Regions from separate parts of the Homo sapiens genome. Here all the other regions are linked to region 1. Evidence: fine-mapped expression QTL. A gene starts in region 1. Each other region holds a variant in brackets. All regions are shown on one strand. Distances are between the middles of the regions.

The links. PIP is the estimated chance that this variant, and not a neighbour inherited with it, causes the effect.
Region 2: its variant is fine-mapped to the expression of EPHB1 in thyroid (GTEx, PIP 0.99).
Region 3: its variant is fine-mapped to the expression of EPHB1 in cerebellum (GTEx, PIP above 0.99).
Region 4: its variant is fine-mapped to the expression of EPHB1 in whole blood (INTERVAL, PIP above 0.99).
Region 5: its variant is fine-mapped to the expression of EPHB1 in whole blood (INTERVAL, PIP above 0.99).

The regions. Positions count from the first base shown.
Region 1 is chr3:134,792,353-134,797,352 of GRCh38, reverse strand. EPHB1 (EPH receptor B1) reads right to left here and starts at 2,093. Exons shown (of 16, transcript NM_004441.5): 1 at 1,664-2,093. The coding sequence starts at 1,721. RefSeq lists enhancers at 1,718-1,907, 1,918-1,967, 2,012-2,306, 2,368-2,577.
Region 2 is chr3:135,035,488-135,040,487 of GRCh38, reverse strand. All of the region lies in intron 3 of EPHB1 (EPH receptor B1), which reads right to left. Among named protein-coding and RNA genes, the nearest start is that of EPHB1, 240 kb to the right of the region's middle. The variant T/A (reference allele first, on the strand shown) is at 2,047.
Region 3 is chr3:134,903,618-134,908,617 of GRCh38, reverse strand. All of the region lies in intron 1 of EPHB1 (EPH receptor B1), which reads right to left. Among named protein-coding and RNA genes, the nearest start is that of EPHB1, 110 kb to the right of the region's middle. The variant T/C (reference allele first, on the strand shown) is at 2,820.
Region 4 is chr3:135,073,316-135,078,315 of GRCh38, reverse strand. The region is part of intron 3 of EPHB1 (EPH receptor B1); the gene reads right to left. Among named protein-coding and RNA genes, the nearest start is that of EPHB1, 280 kb to the right of the region's middle. The variant T/A (reference allele first, on the strand shown) is at 2,940.
Region 5 is chr3:134,850,331-134,855,330 of GRCh38, reverse strand. The region is part of intron 1 of EPHB1 (EPH receptor B1); the gene reads right to left. LOC105374121 (a long non-coding RNA gene) reads left to right here and starts at 846. Exons shown (of 4, transcript XR_924525.4): 1 at 846-932; 2 at 1,584-1,855; 3 at 1,951-2,140; 4 at 2,761-2,919. RefSeq lists enhancers at 2,111-2,320, 2,431-2,490. The variant A/T (reference allele first, on the strand shown) is at 1,924.

The sequences.
Region 1 (5,000 bases):
TATCCCCTTGAATTTCCAATTTCAACTGCTCCCACACGTGTCTCTCAATAAGTCAAACCCAGGCATCCCTGCGCCAGGGTGTTGACGGCACTCCACACGGCTCCAGTCTTCTCCTGCACGTTCCAAAAAGCAAACCCCTCCTTGCTCCCCTCCCTACAAAGCCCAGCAGTCCCTGAGGGAAGCAGGAGACTGAGGGCAGACAAAAAGCCACCTTCGGAAAAGCAAGCGAGAGCTTTCTAGGCATTAATCGCCGCACCCCCACGCCGCCACCAGAACAAACGTGGGATGCGGTGGTCTTCGCCAAAAGGGAAGGGAATCTTAGCCGCGCCTCAGGGCCCGGAATGCCCCTCCAGCTTCACTTCCAGAAGGGCAGAGCTTTCCGGAATGGCGGGGGGCACCAAACCATCGTGTTTGGGGGAGTTTCCACTGGGCAACCGGTCACAGTTTCGCGAGGAACGAGTAACAAGCGGAGCGAGCTCCCAGATGGGAACGCTGCGCGGTCGCCAAGAGCTGCTCCTCCCCGGCTTGGAGTCCCCCAGAGGAGTTCCATCCGGAGCAGGACACCGGAAAGTGGGGCTGCTAGCCGGACTGCGGCAGCGCATCACCCCTAGAGTTGGTTTTCTCCCGACAACTCCAACTCCGCTCTCCCGCGGAGCTGTGTTCCCAGGAGGCTGCCGCGGCCGCTGCTAGGCTGCGAAGAACAGAGGCGGGGGAAGGGGCGGGAGGCGGGGAGCTGGGCCGGGATTTCCCACAGGGATTCGCGAGCGCTACCGAGCGCCCAGGCTCCCCGCTGCGCCGGGCACGGTGTCTTTGGAGCGCGCTTTCCCAGCCACCAAGCCGGAGGCACCGCCAAGTCTGAGCTGGCAGAGAGTGACGCTGCCCGACGACTCCCGGCCGCCGAGTATCCTCTCCGGGGTGGTGGAGAGGCTGGGAGACTTTAGGTAGGACCGACCACTCACCCCAGCCCACTCCTGTTCCAAGGCTCAAGAGGCGAAAAGGGTTTCCACCTCTCCCCGACTGACCCTGGAAACCTGCAGTCCCGCAGGCGCCCGGACCACCAGACTGGTCCCCAAGGGTACGGCCAATGAACTCCACCCCTCTCCTTCGGCGGCCACTTGCGGGATACCACGGCAGAGCTTCTCCGGCCCCCGCGCGCAGTGCTTGCACGCCAAGCAGAGTCCACTAGCCCGTGGACTGCGAGCTGGAGAAAAGGAGGTGGCGCGCGGCTGCTCAGAAGCGTATCCGTGCCTGGGAGCAGACGGGCGCCAGTACTCCAGGAGCCGGATGGCCAGAGGCACCCCTTTCTCCCCAACGCCCAGCTCTGGCTCTGCCCCAGAGCTAAGGAGCATGCACCGCAATGCAGCGGGCTCCGAGCTCTCCGAGCGGGGGCTGCGGGAGACCGAGGCTACCAGGGAGTGCCGGGGCGAGGAAGCCGGGGGACTCGCGAGCCAGTTTCGGGCGCTAAGAGCCAGCCGGGGGCGCTCTGGTGGGTGCCGCCCAAGCCCCGCGCTCGGCAGCGGCCGAGGCTCCCAAACCTCCTTGCCCTCGGGTCCCGGGATGCCTGCACCGCAAAGCAGCCAGAGGAACCCCGCGAACCGCGGAGCACAGCAGTCCCAAGGCGGCCGGCACCAGCAGCCAACTTGCTCCGTGGAGGGTACGTTACCTTCCATCGCAGCCACTGCGGATGCCAGGAGGAGCAGTAGTAGATAATCCAGGGCCATCGCCGGCCGACGGCCCGCAGGCCGAGACCAAGCCGAGGCAGCAGCGCCGGGAGAGCGCCGCGTCCCAGGGCGCCGCTGCGCTCTCCGCGGGTGGCTTCTCGGTATCCTTTCGCGCTCTCGCCCGGACCGGACTTCCCGGAGCGCTGCGTGGGCGTGGGCAGGAGTGTGTGCGCGTGGGGCGGTGCGGGCGCGCGTGGGTGTGGGTGTGCATGTGTGTGTGTGTGTTTATGGGAGAGGTGGGTGTGTGCGTGCGTGTGTGAGAGAGAGAGGGCGAGGGAGAACGAGCCTGGGAGAGCGCGCGAGAGCGAGTGCGTCCTGGTGTCACATTGCTAGCTACAGCGGAGCCTACGGGAGGACGGAGCCGGCCAGACTGACGCGGGAGGGAGCGGGATCCCCCACCATCAGCTCTCTCCCCACCCCTAACACCTCCTGTCCAATCAAGGAATCAAACCTGCAAAATTCCCCCGGCCAATCAGGCGCGAGCACCTCCTTACACTGGCATTGTTAGTTTAAGAAAAACTTTTGCTTGCAAGGCTGTGCGGGAGGGCTCGGAAGGCGCTAGGAGGGGTCCGGGCTCCCCCTCGTGGTGCTCTCGGAGAACCGCAGCGGCCCGCCCAACTCACCCTGTCCCCCCATAGGGTGCCCAGCGAAGGAGCTGGGGAGGCCTCGTGCCCTTACATCCCACCCAGGACTGGATCCGCTTTAAATGATCAAACGAGCCTTCGTTCATCTTCTCTGTGACAAGAGCACCCTGCCTACCCTGTTTAGAGCAACTCCAGGGGCGCACCCGTGCCTCTCCTCCAGAGCTCTTCACTCTCTAGCATGGGTTGGTATTTACTAATCGATTTTGTTTATCGTGGGGTCTCTCCCTCATTAAAATGGGGTCACCATTTTCGGATTCTTGTCTATTTTGTTCACTACAGAATCCACAGTTCACAGAACAGTGCCTGGCCTGCGGGAGGCATAGTACATGTCCGTCGAAAGAATGAATACTGTTCAGATAACCTGTGGGCACTTGCTCCAGGGTCCACAGGGAACCGGATTTGCTTCCTGTCCAACGTTTCGCAGTTCTTTTTCTGCAGAAGCCTCTGGTTGCCTTTGGTGTTCACTTCCCAGTGCATTGTGAACTTCCACAGAGGGCCCTGACCCCAGAGGACAGCTCAGCGTGGGGAGACCAGGAGTCACACAGTCAGCTATAAAACAGCAAAGCCTGCAAGAGGGCTCTCCCAGGCCGGTGCAAGGCGAGGTGCACTGTTGCTGTGGGCCAGGCCTTCAGTGTGGGTGGGAAGGACTTAGGCAGCAACTGGGGATGCAGCCTTGGAGATAGGAGCAATTCTCCCAGGCTCAGCTCTCACAGCTACACTTTATCTTCCTGTTTCTGGAGATGGTCAAGGGTTCTAAATCAGAAACTCACCTTGAGGCTGTTATATGTTATGCTGGAGATGTGTCCTTCCCTCCTCTCCCGCCCCCCCTACATACCTGATGATAGTCTGGTCCTACAGGGTCAGGGATGACCCGTTAGGTTCCCCACCCCTCCTCCTACGCCTCTCACCTTGGAGGCACCAATCCTTTCCCCTGGTCTGTTAATGAGCTAACAGTGGGCAGATGCGATATTTCCCTTTGGGATGACTCTCCTTTCTGGGCTTTTCTAAATCAGTTCCCCACACCCCCCACCTCTGCGTGTCTAGTCTCTCCTTTGCTGGGACTTCTTCCTCTCCACCACAGCCAGACTCAAGTCCCCCAATCCTGACAATTCTTTCCTTCCCTGGCTCTGACTCAGGCTGCCTTCCTCCTCCCCTCCCCTCCCTCCTACCCCACCTCTGTGCCTGAAGGGAAGATGTCATCAACCTCCACCTTCTCATCATCCACCTTAATGCCATGTTAGCTGCCCTCTACGCCTCCACACCACCAGCTGTGTCGTGATGTCCCTGGAGCCACCTGATGTCACCCTGGGCAACAACCTGCTCCTAGTTAGCTGTCATCCTCCTGCACCGTCAGCACCTGCTGACATTGGTGTCCAGTAGATCTTTTGGGGCTCTGGCCCCAGTTTCCATGGTCCTGCTTCTCCTCCTACCCGTCTTGCCACTTCTTACTGTTCCCTCTGTTACCTCTTCAGCTTTCAAGAGAGGTATCCCCCAAACTCCATCCTTGGAGTTCGTCCTCCTGGGGTACATGGGCAACTCCTTGGCAGCTTCACTTGCTTTTTTACCCCCAGCCATCCCCTCATGGATGGACAGGTGGATGGATGGATGGGTGAGTTTCACACTCTTCCCTCCCCCTTTCACTATATCACAGTCACTTGGTAGGCATGTCTGGCAAAGCCCCGGCTCTGCCATGTCCTCCTCCTTATGCCCTTGTCCTATGCCTGTGCATCTGACCCAGTGTAAACCCATACTACCTTCCCCTGGACAACTGGAGAGTCTCTGAATGACAGTCCAGCTTCCCTCCCTCCCCTTAATCCCTCCAAACTCTGCTGCCAAACTCATCCTTCTCAAGCCAACCTTGATCTTGTCTCTTCCCTGCATAGCAACCTAGTGGCTCCTCACTGTCTGCTGAAGAGAGACTGACCACTCTAGCATGACATTCAGACTGCTTTGTAAGCTCTCTGAAACCTGCCTTCTCAGCCCAGGCCCTGCTGGTCTTTCTCTGGGCCTAGGGTATCCTCTTGCCATCTCCACAACCACACCCAGGCCAGTCATGTGCTCACCCACGTATTCAGGCAGGCCCTGTTCTAGCTGTGGGAACACAGTAGACAGCCCTTCTCTGAGGGGTCTTACCATGTCCTGGAAGGGCGGCAATAATAAGCAAATAGGCAGTGGCATGTCAGGTGCTGAGGAGAGCTCTGAAGAATCACAAAGCAGGAAGCAGCAAGAGAGTGACAGCGGCTAGTTAGACATGCTGGGAAGACCTTCTGTTTACTGAGCACCTTCCGCCACAAACACTGTACTGGATGTTTACTTGCACAACTAAAATGAGTTGAATTGAATTTCCTGACCTCTATTCCTACCCAAATCCCACCTCTCCCAGGAAGCCTTTTCTTCTGTCCCTCTTCCTGATACCCTCATGTTATATTTCTGTGGGTACTGAATGGCTCTGTCAGACATGGCTGAAGGTATAAATGACCATTATCCAACTAACTGCAGAATGTCACACCTGGGAGTGCGCTTGGAGCCCACCAAGTACAGGGATTTCAAGTAGAACCCAGCTAGGGACTTTGAACTTGTGCCAGGATAAATACAGCAACATCACCAACTAGGCCCTCTAAAAATACTGATCCCT
Region 2 (5,000 bases), 240 kb before region 1:
CAGCCCCAGGGCTCTGTGTCTCTGCATGGCCCATCCCTCCCAATGCTGCAGGTCCCCAAGAGGACAAGCCAGGCTGCTCTGAGGATGTCACACTGCATGTGGGGAGCTATTCCTAAGACACCCCTGCCTGATAGAATTCTGGGTGGCTGAGAAAATTCCAAAGATCAGCTTGGGCTTATTGCACACTTACTACATGCCAGGCCCTTTATACCACATTATAGTGTATGTATCTCGAATCTCCTGAAAGGAAAGTATTATTACCCCAGATATGGATGGTGGAATCAAGTTTCAGAGATGAACAGCATTTGCCTGAGAACACACAGCAAGTAAGTGGCAGAGTGTGGATTTAAACCCAAGAAACTTGACTCCAAACTCAAATTTTTGTTATCTACAAAGATTTTGCAGGTCAGGAATTCAGACAGAGGTTGGTAATTGGCAGAGGAATTCTCCTGCTCCATGTGGCAGGGACTACAGTCCCTCAATGTATTCAGTTGGTGGCTGGGGGTGAGAGGTGACAGCATGCTGGCAGTCCTCAGAGCCCTCGCTTGCTCTCGGCACCTCCCCTGCCTGGGCTCCCACTTTGGTGGCATTTGAGGAGCCCTTCAGCCCCCCCACTGCACTGTGGGAGCCCCTTTCTGGGCTGGCCAAGGCTGGAGCCCACTCCCTCAGCTTGCAGGGAGAGGCACGAGCGGGAACCGGGGCTGCGTGCGGCGCTTGCGGGCCAGCTTGAGTTCCGGGTGGGCATGGGCTTGGTGGGCCCCGCACTCGAAGCAGCCAGCCAGCCCTGCTGGCCCCGAGCAAGGGGGGACTTAGCAGCCGGGCCAGTGGCTGCGGAGGGTGTACTGAGTCCACCAGCAGTGCCGGCCCACTGGCGCTGTGCTCGATTTCTCGCCGGGCCTTAGCTGCCTTCCCGCGGGGCAGGGCTCGGGACCTGCAGCCCACCATGCCTGAGCCTCCCACCCACTCCGTGGGCTCCTGTGCAGCCCGAGCCTCCCCGACGGGAGCACCACCCCCTACTCCACGGCGCCCAGTCCCATCGACCACCCAAGGGATGAGGAATGCGAGCGCACGGTGCAGGACTGGCAGGCAGCTCCACCTGCAGCCCCAGTGCGGGATCCACTAGGTGAAGCCAGCTGGGCTCCTGAGTCTGGTGGGGACGTGGAGAGTCTTTATATCTAGCTCAGGGATTGTAAATACACCAATCAGCACCCTGTGTTTAGCTCAAGGTTTGTGAGTGCACCAATCGACACTCTCTATCTAGCTGCTCTGGTGAGGACGTGGAGAACCTTTATGTCTAGCTCAGGGATTGTAAATACACCAATCGGCACTCTGTATCTAGCTCAAGCTTTGTAAACACACCAATCAGCACCCTGTGTTTAGCTCAAGGTTTGTGAATGCACCAATCGACACTCTGTATCTAGCTGCTCTGGTGGGGCCTTGGAGAACCTGTGTGTCGAAACTCTGTATCTAACTAATCTGATGGGGACATAGAGAACCTTTGTATCTAGCTCAGGGATTGTAAACGCACCAATCAGCGCCGTGACAAAACAGGCCACTCGGCTCTACCAATCAGCAGGATGTGGGTGGGGCCAGATAAGAGAATAAAAGCAGGCTGCTGGAGCCAGCATTGGCAACCCGCTGGGGTCCCCTTCCACACTGTGGAAGCTTTGTTCTTTCGCTCTTTGCAATAAATCTTGCTACTGCTCACTCTTTGGGTCCACGCTGCTTTTATGAGCTGTAACACTCACCGCGAAGGTCTGCAGCTTCACTCCTGAGCCAGCGAGACCACGAACCCACCAGAAGGAAGAAACTCCGAACACATCTGAATATCAGAAGGGACAGACTCCAGACGCGCCACCTTAAGAGCTGTAACACTCACCGCGAGGGTCCGCGGCTTCATTCTTGAAGTCAGTGAGACCAAGAACCCACCAATTCCGGACATAGGGGGCCTCAAGGAGCCAAAATGGTCCAACTCAGCAGCCTGGCACCTTGACAGGGTCAGCTGCCAGACTGGGCCTATCTCTCTCTCCCTGAAGTTTCAGGGAT[T/A]CTCTATGTACTCCCCTCTTGCAGAGGAGCAGGACTTACATGTTTACTCAGGGCACGAACTGACCAAAGAGGAAGCAGCACATGCTGTTAAAGGCAAGACTCGGAACGGGTAAAGTGTTACTTTTGCCACAGTCCATTAGTCAAAATAATCACAGCCCAGCCCAGATTCAAAGGGAGGAGAAATGGGCACCATCTCTTCTTTGGATATGTGTCAAAGAATTTTCTGTCATTCCTACCCCACCACGGGTGAAAAGTAAACTCACACATGTTATATAAGCAGGACTTAGGGAGGCTACCCCAGTGGAGCTTGGACTGTTCACTGGAGCTACAAATGGCTAACTTGCCCCTCACACCTTACTCTGGTGAGGATAGTGGGAGAAGCATACTTGCAGGAAGGGGACACACCCGAGCTCTGTGATAAGCCCACATGTTCCTGCGGCTCTTAGGTTGGGAGATCTGGTAGGTAAACAATGACTGTGATAAGAAAAGGGTAGAGCCTAATATGGGGCACACCAATTCTAACACTAACTGCAGAATTCCTGCAAGTTTATTTTATAAGTCATTTAACCAGTCAGTGTCTGAGGAGGCAGAGAAAACCTGGTTTAATAAAATTCACCACTCAAAGAACATAGATTAATTGTACCCACTCAATGCAGAAATCATGAAACCTCCAGGAAATGTAAAATCCACATTTCAATCTTGTACCTCTTGGCTTGTTCAGTAATAAGACTTTTATCCAAAGTGAATCTGAGATACAGTGCAAACTTTTAGCTGGTTCATTTACTCCTTTTCTATCATTATACAGAAAGCATCACTGATGGGCGGTGGGGAGATAGATGGTAAATCAATGGTGTCCCTGGTCATAGGCAAGTCACCTAAACTCTCTGGACCCCAGTTTCCCCTTCTGTCAAATGGACTTGGTCTATGTGATTTCTAAATCCCTTCCAACGGTTTTATGTTGGGAGCTAATGCTAGTGACCTTTAAAAGCCAAATTCATGCAAAACCAGTCATTTTCTCCAGTACATATCTAACGAGTGCTTTCCTGTACAAAGCATTTGTCCTCAAGGGACGTCTCCCTGAGGATTTGAACCTCCTCCAGTTTTCAAGGCCAAGACCAGGGAGCATTCTATCAAATCCTCCCCAGAGGCCACAGTCTGATCCCAGTATTCTTCCTGTCTCTTGGAGATTTGAAACAAAGAACAGACTTTTCATTTTCAGAGTGCATCTGGAGTAAGGAGATTTAGTTTCAAAGTGATTTGCTGCACAGAAAACCCTCTATTTTGCTTCCAAGCCTGAGCAGTTACTCTAGCTCTTCAGCATGTGCTAATTCTCTCATTACTGGGCCTGGGATGAGGGTGGCGATATCCCAGGTCAAGATGTTCCCCATGTCTTGAGAGAATGCCTGATTAAAGAACAACAATCCATCTATCTTCTCGGTAGTCTATTTACCACCCCATTGCTCTGGTCCTGCCCACTTGGCCTGACACTTGGCTGCCCGAATCAATCAATCAGGAGAGCAGAAAGCTGTCCTAATAGCCACATCAGGACTGCTCATCAAGCCCCACTGCTCACTTTTGTAAACCTCTGCAGCCCTGAAACCCAGTCACATCAGTCCAGTGCTACCGTCCACAGATCAAGATGCAGCTTCCATATTTGGGTTTCCTGACCTAGCTGCCTGTGGACCTAGCTGACCTAGCTGCTAGATATTCTAGAAATATCCTAAATAGACATAGGACCTGACTGATCACAGAGGTTAAGGAACCTATCCCATGCTTATACAACGGTTCAGAAGAAGATGAAGGCCAGGACACCCATCAGTCACACTTTCATGGTGGCTGAGTTAGGAGGACCCTCCACAGGTCTGAAGGGTGAAGTTAATGTAGAAGACAGCAACACTTGAACTGTGCAAGCCTGCAGGTACCCATCTCTCTCAGTCTCAGGGCACAGTAGCCTATACACTGCAGAGCACCCACATGGCAAAGACAACACAGAATGGGAAAACAGTGAGGGGTCAGCTGACCTCACAGGCCATGCAGGCCTGCCTCCTCCATCCTGACCGGTTTGGATGGGTATATGCCAATTCCACCACTTCCCTGATTGATTTTCTCCCTGTCCAATTCAAGCAACCCCCAGCTGCTTGGTTGCACTGGCCTCAGTCCTCTCTGGCATCACCCTCCCCGAGTAGTTATGATATGGGCCTGAGGCTCTAGTCCTCCAGAGATAGCGTCTCAACGGCCTTGCTGTGCTACCTATGCCAACGGCCTCCTCTGTCTTCCCACCCAACCATAGGCTCCTGGGGTCAGAAGCGGCTTCTTACCTCTCTGTCCTCAGTATTTAGACTAAAGCCTGGCAGCCACTGGAGAGTACTAAGTGGATGTATGTGGAAATAGTGAATGGATGGAGAGACGAGTGGATGGAAGGAAAAATGAATGGAGAGATAGATAAATGAATGTTAGCTCCAAAGAGGATTTCCATACACTTATGCCCCTCTTTTCTTCAAACCTGGGGACCTGGCTAGACCAGATGCTTCGGCAAATCCCATGAGCCAACTACCCTATGGACCAAACTTGTCTTTTTGGTGGTATAGCAGTGCTGGCATGTTACAGACAGCCCTCCACATGGGCCAGTCACCTGACCCTGCCACAAGCTCATATGCTATGGAATGGTATATGACTAATGCATCATGCAAGTATATGTGCAGTGGCAGGAGATGCTGGAGTAGTACCTCAAGGCCAGTGGACAGTAGGTCTCCAGCTGTCCAGCATTTCCCAGAAACAGATGCCAGACCCATGAAAATGAGTATGAGAGGGACTGTGCTGATGAGCAGGAGGGTCCTGGTGGGATTCCAAGCCCCAAAACAGAACACGCTAGATTTCAGCCTCCTCCTCTAATTACCCAGGGATGTGCTCCCTAGGATGTACTTTAAGTATAAAAGACTCCTTAATTAAAGGTA
Region 3 (5,000 bases), 110 kb before region 1:
CCAGGAATATATCAGGCCTTTCCCAGCCCTGCCCCTGTCCTCACCACGCTGGTGGAGCTCTGTGGAGAGTTGGGCCAGACAATGGGCCAGTGGGTTCACTTGGGAACTCACAAAAGCCCTATTGCCCTCCACACAGCGCAGAGTGACAGGCATAGGGAACAAATCCCCTTCCCTGCAGGCTGCCTGGGTAGGATAATATGGGGGCACAGGGCCTCTGGAAGCATGGCTGGAGGTCTGGGCCCTGGGCCCAAGACAGCCTATGGAGAGGGCCAGCCCCTCTATCACTCAGAATTCACTGAGCTGCAGAGTCACAGAGGCTTGGCATGGCCCCAGCCCTCATGTTTGTTGGGAATGTTAGCACCTCCATGCCGACACACTGAAGCCTCTAGATGCATACGCAGAAGGCCCCACACCATGTGTTTGGGGTCTGAGAGAAGAGGGTTTGCAAAAAGGAAGATAAGATACACAGCTTACTGCACTGCAGTGTGGGCTTTGTAAGGGCAGGAACTATTCCCAGGCAAGGGCTGGACACAAAGCACAAGCCCATGAGTGACTGAATCAGTGAGGGAAGAAGATGGAAATGAGACCCTAGCCTGGCTACCAGCTGTGGTGTGCAGCACCTCAAAGGAGGAAGCTTGGAAATTTCTAGTCTCTAACCCTGCACCAGGAGGACTCTGGATTTAAGAGCAGGAGCATGTTGGAGGCCCGGAGAGGGGAGGCCACATTCTAGCAGGCTGGAGAGGGGAGAACATGTGGGGCAAACACTGACATAGACAATTATCCCTCACTTCCGAAATGCAATCAGTCAATGACATCTACTGTGGGCATGGCCCAAGACTTTACTGAATTTTTAAATTGAGTAATACAGCCAAGTTCTACTCTTTCTTATAAGATGTCTATTCTCTTTTTCTTTAAGATTTCCATCACCAGTGCTGGCTGGCTTTCTTGGTGGGGAGGGGGCGGGCAGGGGGGTCAGTCACTTTTCTTCCACTTCACGGGAGGCAGTTAATCTAATGTATGTAATGCAATGATGATAACTGGCAATCAGCAAAGCACTTGCATCCCTCTTGGCTGGTACCTTAGTGCCTGTGGGTCAAATTTGCATCTCAGCAAAATGACACGGAACTTCACTCTACAGCATTCAAATCTCAGTGTTAAATCTGGTAATGGCCAGAGACAACTGAGCTGTGTTTTCTTTATGTTTCACCAAGCACTTTGGGCCCATCTGCCCTTCCTTTAGAAAAATGATGCAAAGCTTTGTCTACCAGCAGAAGAAAACACATATCTACTTTATTTAGTGGACTCTTACCTAGCCAGCCATGGTGCAACTAAGAGAGCACTGGAGTTGAAGTCAAAAGATAAAGGTTCCAATCTAAGCTGTGTTGATAATGGCAATGTGGCACTGGGTAACCCACACAACCTCTCTGAGCCCCAGATTTCTTATCAGTAGCATGGATGCAATATACCTGTTTCCCACGTTAATTTGAAGATCGAATGAGGTACTTTTTGTGAAGTGTTTAACACTGCACCTGGCCCATAATAATCACTTATCAATGCTAATTATTATTATTTCTAAACAGTTGGATTCAGATATATGCCTTTTATAAATAGCACTTGTCTAGCCATTAGAGTTTATAAACTATTTTCACAGGCATTATCTTATCTTAGAAGACCATTAAGAGACAAGCATTGGCCCTACTGTTTGAGATCTCATTACACAAACTGAACACAACACCATCAGTTGAATGGTGGCTCAACTCCCTAGACCTCTGGGGTGATAGCCTCTGGGCTGCAAAGCAGCACAGGTCTAGGTAAAGTCCTCCAGCCCAACCCAGGAGCACATTCTCCAAGAGGGCCTTGGTTTACCACTGACCACACTGGCTGCTCTGATAAGTGTTATGATGGTCTGCTCTGGCGGCTGGCAAACTTCATATGTTAGGCTTTGGGAGCCATAAGATCTCTGTTGCAACTACTCAATTCTGCCATTGCCATTACCTCATGTAAGCAAACTATAGGCTGGATTTGGCCCATGATATATAATTTTCCCACCACTAGATAGTGAAGGGTTGTGGCCTGGACAAACATGCTAGAAGAATTTGATCAGTGATATTTAAAACTTGTCTTTTCACGTTTGATCACTTCATTCATTATTTTATTGTACAATTAAAAGAAAAAACTCTTACAGCTATCAGCATACCTATAAACGTCCACAAAAGTTTGTGTGACCTCTAGAATACCAGAAAATCACCAGCTGGAACCCAGAGGATACTCAATGAACAAAAATAAAATTAAATAAAATTTATATTACTAAGTCATCTAAATAGAGTGTACCTACAGAAGATGACTGGCCTAATTCTGATCTATGATGCTATCCCCTCGGGCTAAATGGTTTCAACAAAATTCAAAAAGGAATTTGAGTCCTTCCAAAGGGGTATAAAGGGAAACAGAATAAACATGGGGAACACAGGCCTCATTTGCCATTAATGAATTTGCAGAGGAACGTGTATAATTAGTGTGTTTGTCAGCTGGGTTTCTGTAGACTTGGCACATCAATGGGATCGCATCACCATGGGAGCGCTCAGAAGGGCCATGGGCCCTGGGCTCTCGGAAGAGTCTCCTCTGATCTTATGGAAACCACCAATCAGAGGTATGAGAAAGGAGATCAGCCAAGAGAAAATTCAATACTGCAAAATCAGGTGGCAGAGGAGTGAAGCTAGCAGATGGGCAAAGGGGGCTTCAGAAGGGAAGCCAACAGCAAGATGCTCAATCGAAACAGTCCAAGGACTGCCTGGGAATCATGGGGAAACGGCAAGGCTCTG[T/C]CTGGCTTTCACAGCTTAGAGGGCAGTTGGGAGGAAATGTCCACAGCAAGGCTCCTGGTCAGCACCAAGAGGAAACATAAGCCAAGAGTCAGTCCAGATTTGGCCAGACCTCAGCACAGGAAAAGAGGAGGCCAGAAGTGTGGTGTACTCCACAGGCCACACTGACTGGCCCTTGTAAAACCACCTCACCACCTGCTGCCTTTGCTCTTCCTCTTTTCCTTAGGCTTCCACTCCATTGCACCTTTTCCCAGCGGGTGGTCCCTACAGATGTGCTGGGCTGATGGATAAACCACATGTGCTTCCCAAAGCAGAATGCTTGCCCTGCCCCCTGGTTGGCAATGCTGGGCAGTCAGTAATGCCGGGAATGACAAGAGAAATGCCTGACATGCGGAAAGTGACAAGAGAAATGTGTGGAAGGTGTGGCGGGGAGTGGCTGCAGTGCGCACACTCCACAATCAGTTTGGTAGGCCAGCAGCATGTGGAAACTCACAGAGAAAATATGTCGGCTTCAGAGAGAGGCTCCTGGGGCCCCCTCAGCCAGCACTTTGGATAGCTCCAAAGAGGAAAGTGGAGGAAGGCTGATCCCCAGTGTCCATCCAATCTTCTCTACCTGCAACTTACAAGAGTATTCTAAAGAAACACTGCACTGGAGGTGGGTACTGATGCAGCTATTGGGGAGTGAAGCAGGACCCTCACCCACAGCCACAACCACTCCCACATGGTCTCAGGGGCTGACTCATGGTGACCAGTGCTGTGGAATCATGCCCCATTACTTTTGTTTTACAGTTTCAGCTCCTGTAGAGATCATTTGTCTCTCCAAGTGCAGTCCTGTGACTGGGCACTCTGCCACCTGGTGCAAAGCCCGCTCCCCTAAAAGGCCCCTGGTTAAAGCAGAGAAGTAAAAGAGCTAGGCATAGCAGACCCAAACAAGAACATTTTGTCAAAAACAGATCTCTTTCACCAACTAAGCTTGAACAAATTGTATAAACACTATATTTAGACACTTTGAAGGAATGTTTAAAGTTTGTGTTTCCTAAATGACAGTCAGATGTCTTCCCTGACTATCTGTGATCAGCTGTAGAATTCACTTCCCCATCCCATACTCGTGATCTCCAAGAGACTAGCTACTCAGTGTGTGTGCCAAAATCTCTCAGCCATAGCCCCTTGGTGAGGAGGTATTTCTCCCAGCTATGAACTTTTTCCCATGCAGAGTCAAACCATCCGCTGGCTCAGCAAGTGTAAAGCCCCAAAAACTGTGGGTTGTTGCTTCTGAGAAATGTCCACCCCCATGGTGCTTACCTGCCACCCCCCACCACAGACCACAGACCACAGACACACTGGCCCAGGCTGACACCCACTCGCAGGCACCCCTCCACCACCCTAGCAGCTGCCTGCTTTCACACGCTGCCTCAGAGATGAAAGCGACTATGTCCCTTAAACAGAAGAGAATATTTTGAACAGAGAATTAACAGCAAATTAAACTGGTTTCACTGTACTCATTCATGCACAAAATTAGTGTGGGAGTTAAACCAAGAAAAAGCAAACAGGCGATGTGTTGCGATAATCAGAGGGCAGAATCCAGCCTCAGAAAGAAATGTTCACTCAGAGGAGGAAAGCCTGGGAGCTACAGGCTCCTAATTGGGCAAGAGTGCTACCTCTTCTCCCACCTGGAGCCAGCCTCCTTTCCAGGGCTGGGGGATCCAAAAGGGCTTGGAGATCTCCTAGGCCAGCAGCAGACAGCCTCATGACAGGTAGACACACCCTCCTGAAAAGGCCCCCGGTGCTTGCCTGCTCTGCTCCCTGGGCAGCTGCTTGCACTGCCGCTGCACAATCAATGAAAAACATTACAGAAACAACCAATTAGGGCCTGAAATGCCTTCAGGCTTTTTCCTTCGTGGGCACATCTGGCTGCGGTGGGGTCACAGTGAAACTTCTCTCCTGTGGATTCACTGGGACCCAGAATTAGCAACAATGGAATAATAACCAGCTTTAGAACACCAAGCAATTTTTAATAACTTCACAAATCTTTCCTTCCAACTCTGTCTGGTTAATCTATTACCTAATTCTTACCTTTGATAGAATTCTTACCTTTGGTCCCTCCATTTACCAAGGCCCCATCATTCCCATCCCTAGAATAAAACCTGGTCCAGGCGTACACAGTCCAGGCTGGGTGGAAGGGAA
Region 4 (5,000 bases), 280 kb before region 1:
GAACACCTCCTTGGGAAGACCCATCCCTCTCTTCTGAGGGAGGAGATATCAGCTTCTTCTCTTACTCCTTTCCATACTCCTCCCCCTGCCAGGCACAGTGGATACACTTGTCTGAAGGCCTGAAGTCTTCTCACACTGGGCCTTTAAGAGCCTGGCCTCTTACCCCATCAAATCTACCCTTGAGCAGGAACCTGGGGGAATGCAGGAACTGAGATAACTGTGATTGAATCTCAAACTTTGAATAACTGACTTTACTCTCTGGGCTGCAGTTCCATCATCTGCAAAATGGAGTGGTAATAATAGCACCTACTTCAAAAGATTTTGTGAAGATTAAACAAATCAATGCTATCACATGCTTTCTATAGAGTCTTCCACATAATAAGGGCTCCAAAATTAGGGCTGTTTATACATGGAAGTAAATAACTAAACCAATGGCAAAGATCAACCTTCTGGTATGGGAGATGTGAGGGGAGCAAAGTGTGTCTTGATTCTCAAAATCCAGCAAAGTCAACCACAAATGCCTCTGCAGCTCCTGAGCTTCCTACTTCCAGTCATTGGGTTGTGGCCCTGGAATGGGCCTTCATGGGTCGGCTCTAGTCCCTCCTGTAGCACCAGGATGTGCCATGTATGCATCTCAGGGTCTTTATGTTTCCCCTCCACCCATGTCCCACATGTTGTTCCTTCAGCTCCTGCTACCCCACCCTTCTCTGTTCAGTAAGCTGCTTCTACCACGTCTTCCTCCTACCTAGGTTTGAGACCATCTCCCAACAACTCTAAGCCCAGCCATCCATGGCCCAGTGATGTACACTAGAAAGCAGGGCATGCTCATCAGAGGACCTAGGCTTCAGAAAAACAGAGTGGGTGAGAGGGACGGCTGACATCAGAGCAGGGAGAGGGGCAAGTCTGTGACTGCAAGTCAAAGGCATGGTGGCTGAGGGGTTCAGAGAGCAGGAATGGTCCCAGATATGTGGGTGAGAAAGAGAGAACAAACCTGGGAGCAGGATATTGTAAGCTGATGCTGCCCAAGACTGCCACTCCTGCAGAAGGGAATGGCAGGTCCTCACACCAGTGGCCTGCAGCCTTCCCTGGAGGCTGAGACTTGTCCCACGGGGTCCAAAGCCCACTCTCCCCTTCTCTCCCTGTCCATGGTTCCTTTGGCAAAATACATTCTGGAATCTACTTCTCTTTCTTTCTTTTTTATCTTAAGCAGTTTTATGGAGGTATAATTAACATATCATAAAATTCATTGTAAATTATTCAATGAATTTGAGTAAATTTATGAGTTCAATGATTCTTGGTAAATTTGTAGAGTTCTCACCACAATTAAATTTTAGAGCATGTCTACCACCCCGTAAATGTCCCTCAGGCCCCATAACTGCTCCTACCCCCTAATTCTAGGCAACCACTTATCTACTTTCTGTTTCTGTGGATTTGTCATTTCTGGACATTTCTAGGACTCATTCAACATTTTCAAAAATCTGGCTTCAATAACTTAGCACAATGTTTTGGCATTCATCCATAGTGTAATGTGTGTCAGTATTTCATTCCTTTTTACTGATGAACAATATTCCATTGTATGGATATACCACATTTTGTTTATCCATTCACCAGTTGATAAACATTTGGATGGTTTCCACCTTTTGGCTATTATGAATAATGCTGCTGTGAATATCTGCATGCAAGTCACTTCATGGACATATGTTTTCATTCTCTTGAGTAAAAATCTGAGGAGTGGAATTGCTGGGTCATATGGTAAACTTATAATTAACTTAAGAAACTGCCAAACTGTTTTCCAAAGCAGCTGTACAATTTTACATTCCCAGCAGTATTGTATAAGACTTCCATTTTTGAATTTAAAATTATATCCATTCTAGTGAGTGTAAAGTAGTATATCATTGTGTTTTTAATTTGCATTTCCTTACTGACTAATGATGTTGGGCATATTTTCATGTGTATAAAAATCATTTGTGTATCTTCTTTGCTGAAATCCCCATGCATATTTTTGCTCATTTTTAAATTGAGTTGTTTGACTTTTTACTAATGCATTTAAGAGTTATATATATATATATATATATATATATCCCTTTTCAGATAAATGATATACAAATATTTTTCTCGAATCCAATTTACCAATGTTTCACCTATGGATTGTGCTTTTGGAGTCATATCTAAGAAATCTTTGCCCTAAGGTCAAAACATTTTCCTAGAAATTTTATAGTTTTTGTTTTTCCTTTTAGGTCTATGATCCATTTGGAGTTAATATTTGTATATGGTGTGAGGTAATCTTGTTTTTCCTGCTTATGGATATCCAATTGTTTCAGCACTTCCAAATAAACACCAGGAAGCCATCTCTTGGGATGGTTTCCAACCACTGATGTGACTGACCATCTACTCATCCATCCCCAACTGCCTCAAATAGGAGAAAGGGCTAACGTTACCTACAGGTGCCAAGACATTTTCTGGGACTCTCCATCAGGCAAGCCCCTTGCAGGTAAAGAGCATCTCTCCTCCTTCATAGAGTGGCCTGTCCACTGTCCACACTCAGTAAGAATTAGCAATGGCAGTGATTAAGAAGAACTGTGAGTCTGATGGAGTGGAGGCAGGATAGTAGCCTCCTGCCAGCTGCTTCTTTCTTTCTACCACCTAGGGACTGAGAAGAGCTGTGGATGATGCCATATAAGCCACCACACCCTATCATCAGCCAAGCCCTTATTCCTGAAGAAGCACAAAGCCCATCAGCTCCTAGCTGTTGGCAGCTAGTGTGGGAGGCAGAAGAAAGAGACATTTCATCATCTTAAGATACCTCAGCAGGTCCATGGGAGCAACAGGTCAAAAGGCCTTCTACCTGGGTGCTTGGGTTGCATGATGAAACAGACGGGGAAATGGGGGCCCTGTAATTGGAGGGTGATATGCAGACAACAGCTCAGCAGCAGGTCTAC[T/A]CATCAGATGGCTCATGGATTCTGGCTATCGATTCCCAGGCAATCTAACCCTGCAGTTGACAAAAGGGAGATGCCAGCAGACTCTGGCACTCTAGATGTCTGAATTCTCAGATGGGCAGGGCAGCTGGCAAGGTTGTTTCAGCCTCCAGAAAGCGCAACATTGACAGGTGGTAGAGATGACTGAAAAGGAAGCCCAGGGCTGGTTGGGGATAGTTCAGATATCCAATCAACCTGCTTAAAGGCTCATACTTTGAAACTGCTTCTTGTATCCAGCACCTAGTCTTTCCTCCTTTGGATACTACCAGAGAATCCCAGAAATCTTTCCTAACCTGGTTGGCACCTCCTGCTCCCACCAAACTCCAGAAAGTTATTAAAGAAAAACCACACAGGCAATGATAGGTGTATTACAGCGAGGGGTCCTTTTGAGCTGCTTGTTGGATTGTGCATGGTAGGCTCTCACCCTGGCCTGTGGGTCTCACTCCTCATTTCCACCCCACCACCCTGATACTCTGCTTGCCCCCTCTGATGCTGCTTACATGGCCTTTACTTAGAGGTCACATGCAGTATGGAAGAAGGAGAGCTCCCCAAAATGTAAGGATTGGAAACAGCCTTCATAATGACATAGTGCCACCCCTACATGTTCATATGGGGAAACTGAGGCCCAGAGGGGAGGGGATGGCCCAAAGCCACAGTATAGAAGCTGGGGCTAAGACTAGGTAAGTGCAATTGCCTGTGGATCAGTGACCAACACCTTCCCAGGTGGGAAACACATCAGCAGGTTTCGATAACATATTTAAGATCTAACTGAAAATGGTGTGTTTAGTAGCAGATGGATAAATGTATCCATAAAAGCAAGGCTTATGTTGTTCATTCAGTAAAAGTCCTAGGGTACTAAGGACATATCAAGCAGTAGAATTAACCCTAGAACAAAATCATACAACATTTTTCCTTATAAAATCTGGGACTACAAAGTCTGGAGTGGAGGAAAAAAAAACCTGAAAGCCTAGAGACAATTCTAAACTTGCATTTATTCAATTTCTCATTCATTCAACAAATATCCATTGATTGAAATGCATCAAGTATGTTTAAATCTATGAGCTCATGATGATATTTAAACACTCCACTGATCAATTGGAGAATGTAGAGAACAACTCATTATTTTGAAAACTGATCAAGACAGAGAATCAAGCATTTATATGCCTTTCTTATACAAACCATAACTAAATAAGGGCAATTTTCTTCTTATAAAATATTTCAGTTAATATATGCAGAAAGAATGATAGAATTGGAATAGTAACATTTTGCAAACCCTAATGAAAGACTGGATCTGGACAATGAGAATCAACATCCCTAACATCAACATCACAGAGAGAAAAATCAGACAAGATGTGCCTCCATGGATGAATATGAAGTTGAAGTATTCTTTCCAAATAAATAAGCCTGAATCTTATCAAACTTTTTTACTTCCCATTTACAGAAATTGCAGAGGACAGAGGAACACGCTAAACACCACCACTGGAATGCAACGAGCAAACTCAGACTATGGAACGCTCCATAGGACAAACAACATGGTTTCTTAAACAAACAGATTTCAAGAAAAAAAAAGAAAGGGGGAAAACTATAGATTAAAAGAGACTAAAAAGAGATAATAAACCCACTGCAGTTTAAGGAACTTCTTAGCCTGATTCAAATAAACTTAAAAAAAAAGAGAGAAAGACAGAGACATTCAGGAAATTTTGAACACTCTCTGCATATTTGATGATATTCAGAGATTATTATAAATTTGCTTAGATGTGATAATGGTATTACGGTTATTTACTCTGAAGAATTCTTATCTCTTAGAGATATGCTCTGAAATATTTACTGATAAAATGATAGGATGTCTTGAATTTGCTTCAACATAAGGAATTAGTTAAAGCCAGATTGGTCTTGGTTTGACAATTGTTGAAGCTGAATGATGGGTAAAAGTGAGTTTGCTATACAACTCTCTCTACTTTTGCATGTGCTTGAAATTTTCCATTATAAATATGTTAAAAATACTTTTGTGAACTCTTACTAGGT
Region 5 (5,000 bases), 58 kb before region 1:
TCTGGCCTCTGGGGAGCTTCTCCAGACTCTTCTCTAGGTTTTTGCTGCAGCCTTTTCCTCCATCTGGGTTTCAAAGCCTGCCTGGAAGTCTCTGTCTTAAATCTTACATTTTATATTTATAACCCATTCTATTTTAGAAGATTTAAGGTAGCTTACAAGGATTATGTAAAATACTGAAAGATATATAAGCAAACAGGTAAAATATATATGTATTACTAAAATTTTAAAGAGTTGCTAAACACCACGGATAATAAGGTCAAATTTCTGACTATTGTGAGTGCGCATGTGTATATATGTATATGCCCACATATGTGTGTTGTGCACTCATGTATAGGAGAGACAGGTAAGCTGAACAAAAAATTTAACAGATTGTCCCAAGGAGTGGGCAGGGGATTATAATTCACTTCATTTTTTTCTTTATACTTTTCTATATTTTCTTAACTTTTTATAGAGAATCTATATTTGTTTTACAATATGAAAAAAGGCAACAAAAATTCTCTAAAGAAAAATAGGTGAGAAAGAGAAAGCCAAACCAAGCGTAAAGACATAAATTGAAGCCCATGATGAGGCTAAAACAACTGAATTTCTATGGCCAAGCCATGCATTTGGAGCTCAATTTTATAGCAGTCAATGGATGAGGAAAACCTGATCAGTTACACGGGTCACGGGGTCCACAGGACATACAAAGCGATTACTCAGAGAAGCCTGGCTGTCCCTGCTATGGAAGCATGAGGCAAACGCTTCCCATGGGGCCCCATGGAGAGGACACTCTGTGATGCAATGAATGCTGTCAGTGACACCCTCACAGTAAACACCACCGAGTTTCACAGGCTGTTCTAAAGCTCCTCAGTGCGGGCTGATGGCATCTCACCAAAATGCGGTGCAATAAAAGCAAATCCTTGAAGAGTGGAAACCTTGCAGCCAGGTTCATGGTGGGTCTGACTTAATCCAGAGGGAGAGTTTAGAGGATTAAGACCAGGACACAGATCATCTCCTCCTCCCAAACGGCTCCTTTCAGGCTTGGCTCAGCCCCTAAATCATCAAGCAGAATCCTATTCCTCCACTCACAAGAGGCTGCAGTCAAACTGACTCCGGCAGACATTTGTTCAGTCCACACATATTCATGCAGCACCTACTGTGAGCCAGGCCCTGTGCTCTCCTATCGCACAATTACTCCCAGTAATACCAGACCCGTCATATGCCTGGAGCTTCAACCTAGCTCAGCCCAATATCACCTCAGGGCTTGCAGCAAGGACAACACCATATTTTGGCATTGGAGCCTTGGGTGAATCTCCAGGGCAGGAGAAGAACATGTGTGCCTGCTCACACACCAAAAATGTTCACTTTTGGTATTGGGTGGTTGCAGCGAAGGATGATTTGGAGGCTTGAGTATGGGCTCCCAGGAAGGACTCCATGATGGATGGGCTCTCTGTCCTGGATGAGGACAATGCACTGCAGGAGATGTGAAGTTGCTCCTATATGGAACCCCTGTCTCTGTTTTCCATCCCTGCTTTGGCCCTGGGCAGGGAAGACCAAAGCCTTCTCTTCCTCCCCAAAGCCTTCTCTTTTCTCCATCCATACAGGAAGGGCTCAAGAATATTGCTGTGCTACGGTGCTTCTGCAGGCAGGTTCACCATCTGTGTAACTGTGGCTACCACCTTCCATCTTGAACTCAGACACAGACCTCTCCTCCGAGCTCCAGATCCATATATCCAATCTCCTTCTCAATAGTCACTTGCAAGTCTCAGCCATTTCAAAGTCAACCCAAAGTGGTAATCTTCAAATCTTTCCCATTTCAACAAGTGACACCACCATCCACTAATTGTAAAAGTCAGAAACCTGGATGCCATCTTTGGTAACTCTCTCTCTCCTTCTTCCTGCAGCCAACCTATCACTAAAATCTGTGTGTTTTATCCCCAAAAC[A/T]TGTCTGCCACTTCTCTCCATTTCCAGCTCCACTGTGAGAGGCTGCTCACACCACCCCCTACATGCCCTGAGGAGTCTCCAGGGGCACCCACAGCCTCCTCTGGCTTTCTCTGGGTGACCCAGGGAGGGCTAGGCCCTGTGAGCCACACCGGGGCAGCAGCACTCACCAGCTCACAAGTGCTTCCCTCTTCTGCCTTTGCTGACAACAGTCCCCCAGGTAAGCTTTCGCCTTCCCCTTTGTCTCCCCTTTTCTTTCCACTTCTCTCACTTCTGCTTTCATTTTCTATTCTACTTCTTTCTCTTCCACTTCTGAGCTTTGTCTATTTCTGTTCTCTTTCTTTCTCTCCCTCCCGACTCGGGCTCCACTTGCTTCCTCTTCTTCAGATGTGACAGTCATAGAAAGTCAGAGCTGGCAGTGACCCCACCTGCCCTCTGACAGTATGGAAGGAGACTGTGAGGCTCAGAGAGGAAAGCAACTCACCCACATTCTCACAGCAGTGGGCAGCACAGTCAGCCCTAGGGCTCAGATACCCCAACCTGGTCCAGCACTCCTCCACTTATACCTCACTGTTTTGCTGCTTTTTCTTGTCCCCTGTCCCTTATCCCATGACAGTGGCCTGGTGCTGAAGACAGGCCTAGTCATTCTTTGCACAATACCAGTCGATAATTAGGTTGCATAAGTATGTATGTATCTTTCTCTCTTTCACACACACATGCACAGACACACACACACACACACACACCCCACATTTACTGCACAGATACGGACACCTGCACCCAAAGTGTCAGAGGAATGTGACTTTACCCTCTCCAAATGCTCCTTTTGTGCGTTCTCAGGCCTTCCATTCTCCTTCCGATGAGGCTGATGTATTCTGTTGCAGTTGGATGCACCTACAAAAATCCTCTTCAAAATCCCATCACTTCACCACCAAGGAATTACTAAAATACCATGAAGGAGGTGCTCAAAGGCGATATGGGGCAGAGGAAGGAATAAGTGCCTGACCCTCTGCCCCTTCTCTCCTGCAGCCCCATATGTTCTTGGCACAAGAGGGCTACAGAAATCCAATAACATCTTCGGAACCCGTCCAGATTTGACAGAGCCATCTGTGAAAAGCTGCTTGCCAGGGTGGGAGTGGCAGGGCATGCTGTGGCTATAGATTTAGGGTCAAGGCAGACTGCCAGAGGGGTGGGGCAACCAAAAGGAGGGGACATTGAGGCAGACAGTGGTGAGGGGTGGGGACATGTGGATGGAACGAGATGGCCATGGACTCTCCTGTTGTGACCACTTAAAACAGGTAGAAATACGCCCCGAGGTGGGTAAAGTGCACAGCCGACTGCCAGGAGGGACATGGGGCACATAATCTGAACTTAAACCCTTGTAGCCCTGGGATTCTACTGAAAATCCACCCTTGGACAGAGTTTCAAAACAGACATTCAGCAAAGAAGGATGCATTAAGATCTCAGGTTCATCCTAAGGCCCATGGAAGCACACCAGGCCTCCAGGGCCTGGGAAAAGACAATAGCAGAGCTCTGAACATGGACAAAGCTACAACACAGTAAGAAGATTACAATATTTTTCCAGGCTATCATGATTTTGCACCATTTTATGGTTTTCAGCCAACATAACTCATTAAATGTGTAACAAAGAGTATTTAATAGCTATACCTTCTTTTACAAGACAACATGTGAACAAAACTCAAAGATAGGAAAAAACTCTCCTTTGTCAGGCAGCGGAAAATGGCCACAGTGTCCACAGGTCAGGGCACCCAAGGCAAGTGAGCATGGTTTTGCCCCCATGAGGGACTGGCAGTAGCCCAAGGAACAAGACTGCAGAGGCCAAGACAGCCCAGGTGTTCCTCCCATGCAAACCAATGCATACAAAGTCCAAAGTGCATACGGGTGGCTACAGAAAGAAGGGAAGCTGCAAGGGGAGTTGCAGGGGAAGGAGGGATGGAGGAAGGGAGGAAAACCCAGGGGAGCAAATGGGAAGTGGGGGACAAAGCAGAGGGGGAAGTGCAAAGAGGAGAGGGGAGATGGGGATCCGGGTCAAAGGGCACTGGGGATCAGGGAGGAAAGGCTGCAAGGATTTGACAGTAAGACCCCAAAGGAGGCCTGGAAATGAGTTTCTCCAGAGACCTAGTCACTTTTGGAAACCTGTCCCTGAGAAGCTTGCATAGCATAAAGTAGGCAGGTGTGCCCTGCTGGGCTCTGCCTTTCTGCAGCCTGAATTCCTCCCTCCAGACAAGGCCTGCTGGCCCTGAGAACTCCAGCCTTTCTTTCCCTTCGCTGGACCCAGCCAGACACTGGAGGGACACAGGACCAGCACCTTTCCCTTCAAACACACTCAGATCTTCAGTCCAGGAGGAAAGAAGGCAATGGTCCAACCAGGAAGAGGAGAAAAAGGCCTTTCCTGGTCCAGGCCCTGGCCAAGGCCCATCCTTCCATTGTGATGCAATTTCCCTTCCAGCTGCATCTGCTGCCCCCATGGGGAAGCAGATGAATGCCCCCCTGGCTCTGCACCAACAGGTTAGAATGATCTGCTCCAGCTGACCCTGCTCCTGGGGACACTGTCTGCACCTCCCTCGTGCCCTCAGAGTAGCCACAAGAGCTCCCAGGGTATGGAGAGTGAAGCGGGTAATGACAGGGAATGAAGAATCACAGCCAGCATGGGAGCAGGCAATGCCAGCCGCTCCTCCTTGCTCAGGCACACATTTCCAAAGCCTTCTGGGGCTGGCATGAACTGCCCGCACCAAGACTCCTAAGTTAGCCCCCAGACTCACCCATAGCCCCTTCTCACCACATGCCTGGGACACAGGCCTCTTCCTGCCCCACACTTCCCCATCCTCTGCCCCACCCGACGGTGAACAGTCAGTGAGGTCAAGTCCCCATCCCTGTGGGCCTTGAAGCCCCATTTCCCTCAGGCCGGGAGAGAATTCCCAGGGGGCAAGGTTGGAAACATCCCTCTTTCTCAGAGAAGCTCTCACCCAGCCAGAGGTCAGGCGTGGAGAAGCACCAGCAGACTAGCTCATCCCACAGTACAGAGAAGAACTAAGGCCACCTCTCCTCTCTCTCTGGGG